Homo sapiens: one gene and its partner. The protein of the gene in region 2 purifies or fractionates together with the protein of the main gene of each other region. This does not show direct contact. Each region holds a gene or a part of one and is shown on either strand. Other genes may lie near its edges.

What was found.
Region 1: the proteins of METTL14 (region 2) and SPTBN1 purify together in Homo sapiens (affinity purification with mass spectrometry; 2 studies listed by BioGRID and IntAct, with this or other methods). This does not show direct contact.

The regions. Positions count from the first base shown.
Region 1 is NC_000002.12:54,627,178-54,630,832, reverse strand, and holds part of SPTBN1 (spectrin beta chain, non-erythrocytic 1), read right to left. Parts: intron 2,737-3,655; coding exon 2,583-2,736; intron 1,901-2,582; coding exon 1,030-1,900; intron 942-1,029; coding exon 804-941; intron 1-803. UniProt on the Homo sapiens protein: Fodrin, which seems to be involved in secretion, interacts with calmodulin in a calcium-dependent manner and is thus candidate for the calcium-dependent movement of the cytoskeleton at the membrane.
Region 2 is NC_000004.12:118,702,238-118,705,892, forward strand, and holds part of METTL14 (N(6)-adenosine-methyltransferase non-catalytic subunit METTL14), read left to right. Parts: intron 1-648; coding exon of another isoform or gene 649-698; intron 699-1,697; coding exon 1,698-1,814; intron 1,815-3,373; coding exon 3,374-3,584; intron 3,585-3,655. UniProt on the Homo sapiens protein: The METTL3-METTL14 heterodimer forms a N6-methyltransferase complex that methylates adenosine residues at the N(6) position of some mRNAs and regulates the circadian clock, differentiation of embryonic stem cells and cortical neurogenesis.

The DNA.
Region 1 (3,655 bases), on a different chromosome or scaffold from region 2:
CGAGTGTGAAAAAGGGAAGACTGACCATGGCTGGATTGCAAAAGGAACAGTGATGGGTTAATGCTGCTTATCTGTTTTCTCCATCTGTGCTTTGACTACATGCTTTTTTGGAAAATCATCTCACTCAAACTGTGAACACCAAATATAATGGAAATAGCTCAGGGATGCAATGTAATCTGGAAAAAGCCTGTCACGAAGAGGAATGTGTTACAGAGCTCCAATGTGAGCAATTACAAGATATCCATTCCCAGAGTCAATTAATTCATGTCTGTGACACATTTTACACATCTCTGAACTCTACCTAATGAACGTTTTCCAAATCTAAGACTGATGGTAACCTTCAAAACTGGGGCCAGGTGCCATAACCTACTCAAACATGTTTACTCAACAGAAAGATAAGACTGGAACAAAGGTCTGCCCTGACAATCAGGACTTTCATTGGCAAATTAAGTGTTAAACATGCTAGAGTCCTGTTCCTGAAGTTACTATAAAATGGATAGCACAGGTGTCATCTTAATACCTTCTACACTGGACACAGGTCAAACCAAGGCCCTAACTTTGGTGTGGCGAGGGGCAGATGCTGGGCTGACTCAGATAATCCTCCTGCAACCAATGATGTTGCCCTGAGAGACACTTCTTACAAAACAAGGACATGTCAAAAGGCAGGTGCCAATGCCATGACATCAGTGTTGCAATGTCGATGACCCCATGTGGGAAATTCCCAACAGCAAAGCTCGATGAGTGACCTCACCCTCCCCAGTCCCACACGTGGGAGGCTGGCACACTGCTGGCCACGTGCTCACCTTGTGTTGAGTTTGTCCTGCTGGGCTTTGATTTCCTTCTCACTTGGGTGGCCGCTGTGCATCAGCTGGCGTGCAATCTGGTTCACCACTGCAACCCGGGAAGCCTGGTTGTTCATTTCTGGTTCTAGGCTCTCAAATCTGAAATGGCAATTTGACAGGGTGGTCACCTCCTGGGCCACTGGTGGTCACAAGGAACAGGCCAGTGGCTGACCAGCGCCCCGCTCACCTGTGCTGGATGACCTCCAGATCCTCCAGCTTCTCTGGGATCTGCATGTTGTTGAGCCACTGCTCCTTCTCGTCGATCCAGAGCTCACAGGCATCAGCCTCGCTGAACATCTTGTACAGGGCCAGAGTGTCCTGGAGTGCCTGCTTCCGCAGCCGCGTCAGCTCTGCCACCTCCTTATACCGCTCCTCGATGCCCGACAGCCTGCCCCTCACGTCTGGAGACTCGGCATGCTCCTGGGGGAGGGCGCTGGCTTGTTCGTGCAGCGTGTCAAGGGTGGGCCTGTAATTGGCGATCTCTTCCGCCACGTCCTTGTGTTTCTTGACCAGAGACTGTGTGGAATACTCATCGTGGCCCACGTCGCTGCTGGAGACAATCTTGAGGATGTCCAGCATCCAGGCATCAATGTCATCAGCATCTGCCTGGAACTGGTGCAGCAGGGAGGCCTCCTCCAGGCGCTTCTTCCGAATGGCCGAGAGCTGCTCTAGGTTGGCCCACTGCTCCCGGATGTAAATGATCCTCTCACGGATCTTCTCCGACCCGAAGTGCTCCTCCGCGATCATGTCTTCGCCTTCCTTGATGGCCTGCTCAAAGTGGCCACTGCGGCCGCTCATCTCGTCCTCGAACGCCCGGTGCTTGCTGAGCAGGCGCATGACGCTGGTCAGGTCTTTCCCGTAATCGTCCGAGGACAGGATCTTCTCCTTCTCCCGTATCCAGCCTTCCTCTTCTGCCATCTCCCAGAAGAACTTCCAGAGGCGGCGGGACTCTTCCAGACGGGCCCTGCGCTCAGCCGCCAGCTGGCAAAGCTCTTGATAACAGAACTCCATGTGGGCCACGCGGTCTCGGATCACCTGGGGGTCACAGGGCTTGTAACCTGTTTAACATCAAGGAAGGAACGTGGCTGTGTGAGGGAGCTCAGCATGGGTGCAGGCTCACTGGCAGGCAGTAAGCTACACCCCATATTCTTATGATTACCAGCTCACTGCTAAATGTAAATGCAGGGCCATGCGATAAGGCAATGGAGCACCTTCTAACAACTTGACTAGAACAGGAGTGAGGGCAATGATAAACATTATTTTTTTTTGGCCAAACCGCAGACAAAGTGATCATCCTCCTGCAAGAAAGCACTTGAATCATATGAAAAAGGCAGCTGCATATAATTGTTTCTAGAAATACACGAAGCATAACCAAATCATTCTAAACATCCTCCAAAGAGAGGTATATGCAACCAGCTGTGAAAGCCAGGAGCTGCTGGAACAGCCACACCAGGGTGTCGGTGCATGGCCAGAGAGACTGAGGTATGACAAAGTCTCACTGCCAAACACCAAGCCACTCAAAGCAAAGGCAGCATTTGCGTATTTAAGGAAAGGATGTATCAATTCCAGAAAAACAAGATGGAGTTAGTGTTCAGAAGGCCACTCCACCGTATTTCATGCTCCCATGACAAACCCACCAGGAATGTATAGTGGCACAGTAACTTCAAAAGCCCCACTGTGTTTCTATAAATATGAATCTCTGGTGACCCGGAGGTAATGCTTGGAATGGGCCATCCTTACCTTCCCCGTCTGTTGCGAACTTCTGGGCGGAGGCATTGACACCTCTCACCCGCTCTGCCTGGATGCCAATGTCTGCTTCAACCAGGGTGTGCTTCTGTAACAGGTCTTCCACACCAAGTAAGTGTTTGCCATAGTCTTGAGACAATACTAGCACCTGTGCACAAGAAGCAACCAAAAGGACATCTGTGACTATAGCCTTGACTTCAGCATCACATCATCTTTCGACAAGCAGAGAGCCAGCAATGAAGCTATGCCTTCCCTCTAGTCTGCCATGGACCCCACACCTTCAGGGGAAGATGATGGCCAACAAACCAGAACAAAACAAATCATACCTGAAGGCCTGAGTCAGGAGAGCTATCACAAACTAAGGATCACCAAACTTGGAATAAGTAAGTCAAATCTACACTAAAAAGTGCAGAATAGAAGAAAAAGATGGTGAGGGCCAGCGGGGCCAGGGTGGGGGGGAGGGGGCAGTGGGGAGCGTGGGCGGGGGTGCTGTATGAAAGATTCCAAAATATAAACTGGAGCTTCAAGAAGAAACCGCTGCAACAACTACTCAAAAATAAATAAATAAAGGTGATAGACTTGGTCACTTCAAAGTTGAAAGAAATCTTTTAGAAGTTGCTGAGCCTGTAAGTGAATGTTTTTCCTCTGTTAGGAGCTTATTGGTATGCCTCTACTGTACTTACACAATCAATGGGAAAACAATCTACTTGAAAAGCTTACAAGCCACATCTTTAAACCAATAAGGAGAGCAGGGTCAGGTGGCTGTCTTGCTTAGTAGACCCCAAGCAACTTCTAGAGTTTAAGTTTGAACCCACTGATATTTTCTTGTTTCTTCCATCAACCAGCGAAATTTGGGGGCCTCATTCTACATCCTCGCCAGATGAGATTTCTACTTCACTCTTACTTCTGAGGAAGTCTCTGGACCAACTGAGTTACAATGTGCATCATGATTTATAAAATGAAAAGTCCCTCTCTGCTACATTTTACGAACATTTCTATTTTGAGAGGTCAAGAGAGACCAGACCTAAGAACACTGTAAATCTGGAACAATAGGAGGGAAAACTGAT
Region 2 (3,655 bases):
GCCTCCTGAGTAGCCATCCAGGAGGTTTTTATCTTATTTACTTAATGTAGCAGTTTATCATACTGGTGAGAGTTCGGCGAAAAATGATTTAAAAAATAATTCAGCATGAGAAATACTCATGAGATTTTGATAAATTAGTGGATTAGGGCATGTAGAATTTAGGTCATAGTGATGTTAATGACACCTGGTGCAAAATAAATATTTAGTAACAGGAACAGATATTGATCTTGATTTTGGAGATTTTAAAATAAAATTCTGCTGGGCGCAGTGGCTCATGTCTGTCATCCCAGCACTTTGAGAGACAGAGGCGGGCAGATCACTTGAGGCCAGGAGTTCAAGACCAGCCTGGCCAACATGGTGAAACCCCATCTCTACTAAAAATACAAAAATTAGCACAGCATGGTGGCACGTGCTTGTGGTCCCAGCCACTTGGGAAGCTGAGGCATGAGAATCACTTGAACCTGAGAGGCGGAGGTTGCAGTGAGCCAAGATTACCACACTGAACTCCAGCCTAGGTGAGACTCCATCTCAAAAAATAAAATAAAATAAAATTCTGAGTTTCATTTTGAGGTGTTATCTTACATTACCCAATAAGCATTCCTGAAAAGTGTATGTTTTATACTCTATCTTTTTTTTTTTTTGGTTCAGGGGGAACTCCCAACAGGATTTCCTGTGGTGGAAAGGAAGCTTGTTGGAAGGTTTTATTATTATTATTATTATTATTATTATTATTATTATTATACTTTAAGTTCTGGGATACATGTGCAGAACGTGCAGGTTTGTTACATAGGTATACATGTGCCATGGTGGTTTGCTGCACCCATCAACCCGTAATCTACATTAGGTATTTCTCCTAATGCTGTCCCTCCCCTAGCCCCCAACCTGCCTCTACTATATCTTGATATGTACTTGATCATCATACCAGCAATACTGTACTTATTTGTTTATTTTTCCCTCCTTTACTCTTAAAGTTGATGGGGATAGGGACTGTGTCTTATTCATGTTTTTATTTCCAGCAGCTAACCAGCACTGGCATATGGTAGACTTTCAGTTGTCACTGTGAGCAGTCATTTAGCTGGTATTTGTTTTATGTTAATGTATAACAGCTTCTAGGACATTAAGGTTCACATCTCTGTTTTCTAGATTATATAGAGATGAAAGTACCATTTTACCCAACAAAGAGATACACGTAACAATTTTAAGTTTGAACATTTTTACAGTTGTATTAAAAATAGAAATAAGATTTTATAAGACTCTCATTTGAAGTTAGCGTTTAGAAAATTTTCAATAGTATGTAGCTTTGTCAGAGAATAGAATATTGAGTTGGCAGGAATCAAATTGTGTTTTGGATTGTTTTGTGATTACAGAAGGTCTGAGTGCTTACAATTTAAAACCCCATGTCCATTGATGACAATAGAATGTAGAATTGGGAGATGATGTAATCCTTTCTATGTTTTGATATTTAACTATATATATGACATTGATATCCAAAAGATATATATGCATTCCGTATTATGGCTATGTATTTAAAGACTGGCATTTCTTTTTATATTCTACACTGAAACAAAATTACCTTGAAACCTTGGAATATAGTGTCTGAAACCTCTAGAAAGTTTTTTTTAATGCTGGTTGTTATTGTTAAGTATTGTTTATTTCTTTAAGTTAAGGATTTGTGTTTAAAATTCTTTTGTTTCTAGTGTTTACGAAAATGGGGTTACAGAAGATGTGAAGATATTTGTTGGATTAAAACCAATAAAAACAATCCTGGGAAGACTAAGACTTTAGATCCAAAGGCTGTCTTTCAGAGAACAAAGGTATTGCCTTTACTGATTTGTTTTTTTTAATTTTTGTGATTTTCTCTCAAGCTTTTCCAAATAACTGTATACTGTTTAATTAACTTCAGTGAAAAGGTCCTTTTCTTAGACTTGTAAAGACAGCATTGAGCATTACAGGAATACATCCAAATTAGTTTTAAAATGTTTTATTCATTATCTTAGATCAACCCCACCATGCTAGAAAGGGGAGTATATATTCCTCCATGTCCTAAATGCCATATTTCTAAGTTAGATAAAGGCTTTTGATCACACTCACCCGCAGAATTTTTCTAGGCTCAGAAAGAAGAGATAGCAAGATCGCAAGACTCGAGTTGGCCAGCTTAGAGACGTATTTCTCTCTTCTTTCCTTCTTTTTCCTTTACAAGAACCCCTGAGAACTTCTGTTTGTTGTGACTCTGCCCTGCTAGTATCAGGCTTTAACAGTTTTTGTTCTTACTTTTTAGGGAGCCTCTGGTGGGAGGGTCTTTCTTATTAAGTCTTTTTTGTACTGGAATCATGCCTAGGTAATGAAGCCTCCGTAAAATCCCAAGATGGGTTGGAGAGCTTCTGGGTTGGTGAACCTGTGGAGTTTCTGGGACGGTGGTCTGCTTGGAGAGGGCACAGCAGCTCCATGCCCCATGCCCCATGCCGCATACTTTTCATTATGTGTCTCTTCCATCTGGCTGTTTTTGAGTTGTATCCTTTTATAATAAATAGGTCATAGTAAGTAAAGAGCTTTCCTGAATTCCTCGAGCTGTTCTAGCAAATGATCTAACCTGAGGAAGAGGTCATGGGAACCTCTGATTTATAGCTGGTTGGTCAGAAGCACAGGTGACAATCTGGACTTGTGATTGGTATCTGAAGGTGGGGCATTCATGTGGTTCTCAGCCCTTGACCTGTGGGGTCTGCACTAACTAGGTAGATAGTGTCAGAATTGAATTGAATTATAGTGTTGATGGAGAAGTGGAGAATTGCTTGGTATGGGAAAAACCCACACATCTGGGATCAGAAGTGAAGTATTCTGAAAATACTGAGTGTTGTGAGTGCGTAGAAGAGTTTGTTTTTCTTATTTACATGGCAGTCTTTCCTCATCCAGAGATCCAGGTTTTCCTGTTGTTTTGTTGCCCATAGAACTGTATCTCACCAGAAATGGTGGCTCACTTCTGTAATCCCAGCACTTTGGGAGGCCGAGGTAGGTAGACCACTTGAGCCCAGGAATTTGAGACCAGCCTGAGCAACATGGCGAGACCCTGTCTTTACAAAAAATTTAAAAATCAGCCAGGTGTGGTGGTGTGTTCCTGTGGTCCCAGCTACTTGGGAGGCTGAGGCGGGGGATTGCTTGAGCCCAGGAGGTCAAGGCTGCAGTGAGCTGAGATCGTGCTACTGTACTCCAGCCTGGGTGACAGAGCGAGACCCAGTCTCAAAAAGAAGAGAAATAACTGTATCCCAAAGATTCCGAGAAATGAGGATTGTTTTAGAATTGAGGACATCAGAAATGTGAAAGGTTTTGGAATGACTGTTGATGAAAACAGATTAATTGGTCTGCTCTTGTTATTTAGGAACACTGCCTCATGGGGATCAAAGGAACTGTGAAGCGTAGCACAGACGGGGACTTCATTCATGCTAATGTTGACATTGACTTAATTATCACAGAAGAACCTGAAATTGGCAATATAGAAAAACCTGTAGAAATTTTTCATATAATTGAGCATTTTTGTCTTGGTAGAAGACGCCTTCATCTATTTGGAAGAGATAGTACAATTCGACCAGGTAGGACCTCAGTTAACAACAACTTTTATGATTCTTTGGGTTATGCATGTCAAGAAATAGGACATGGTGCT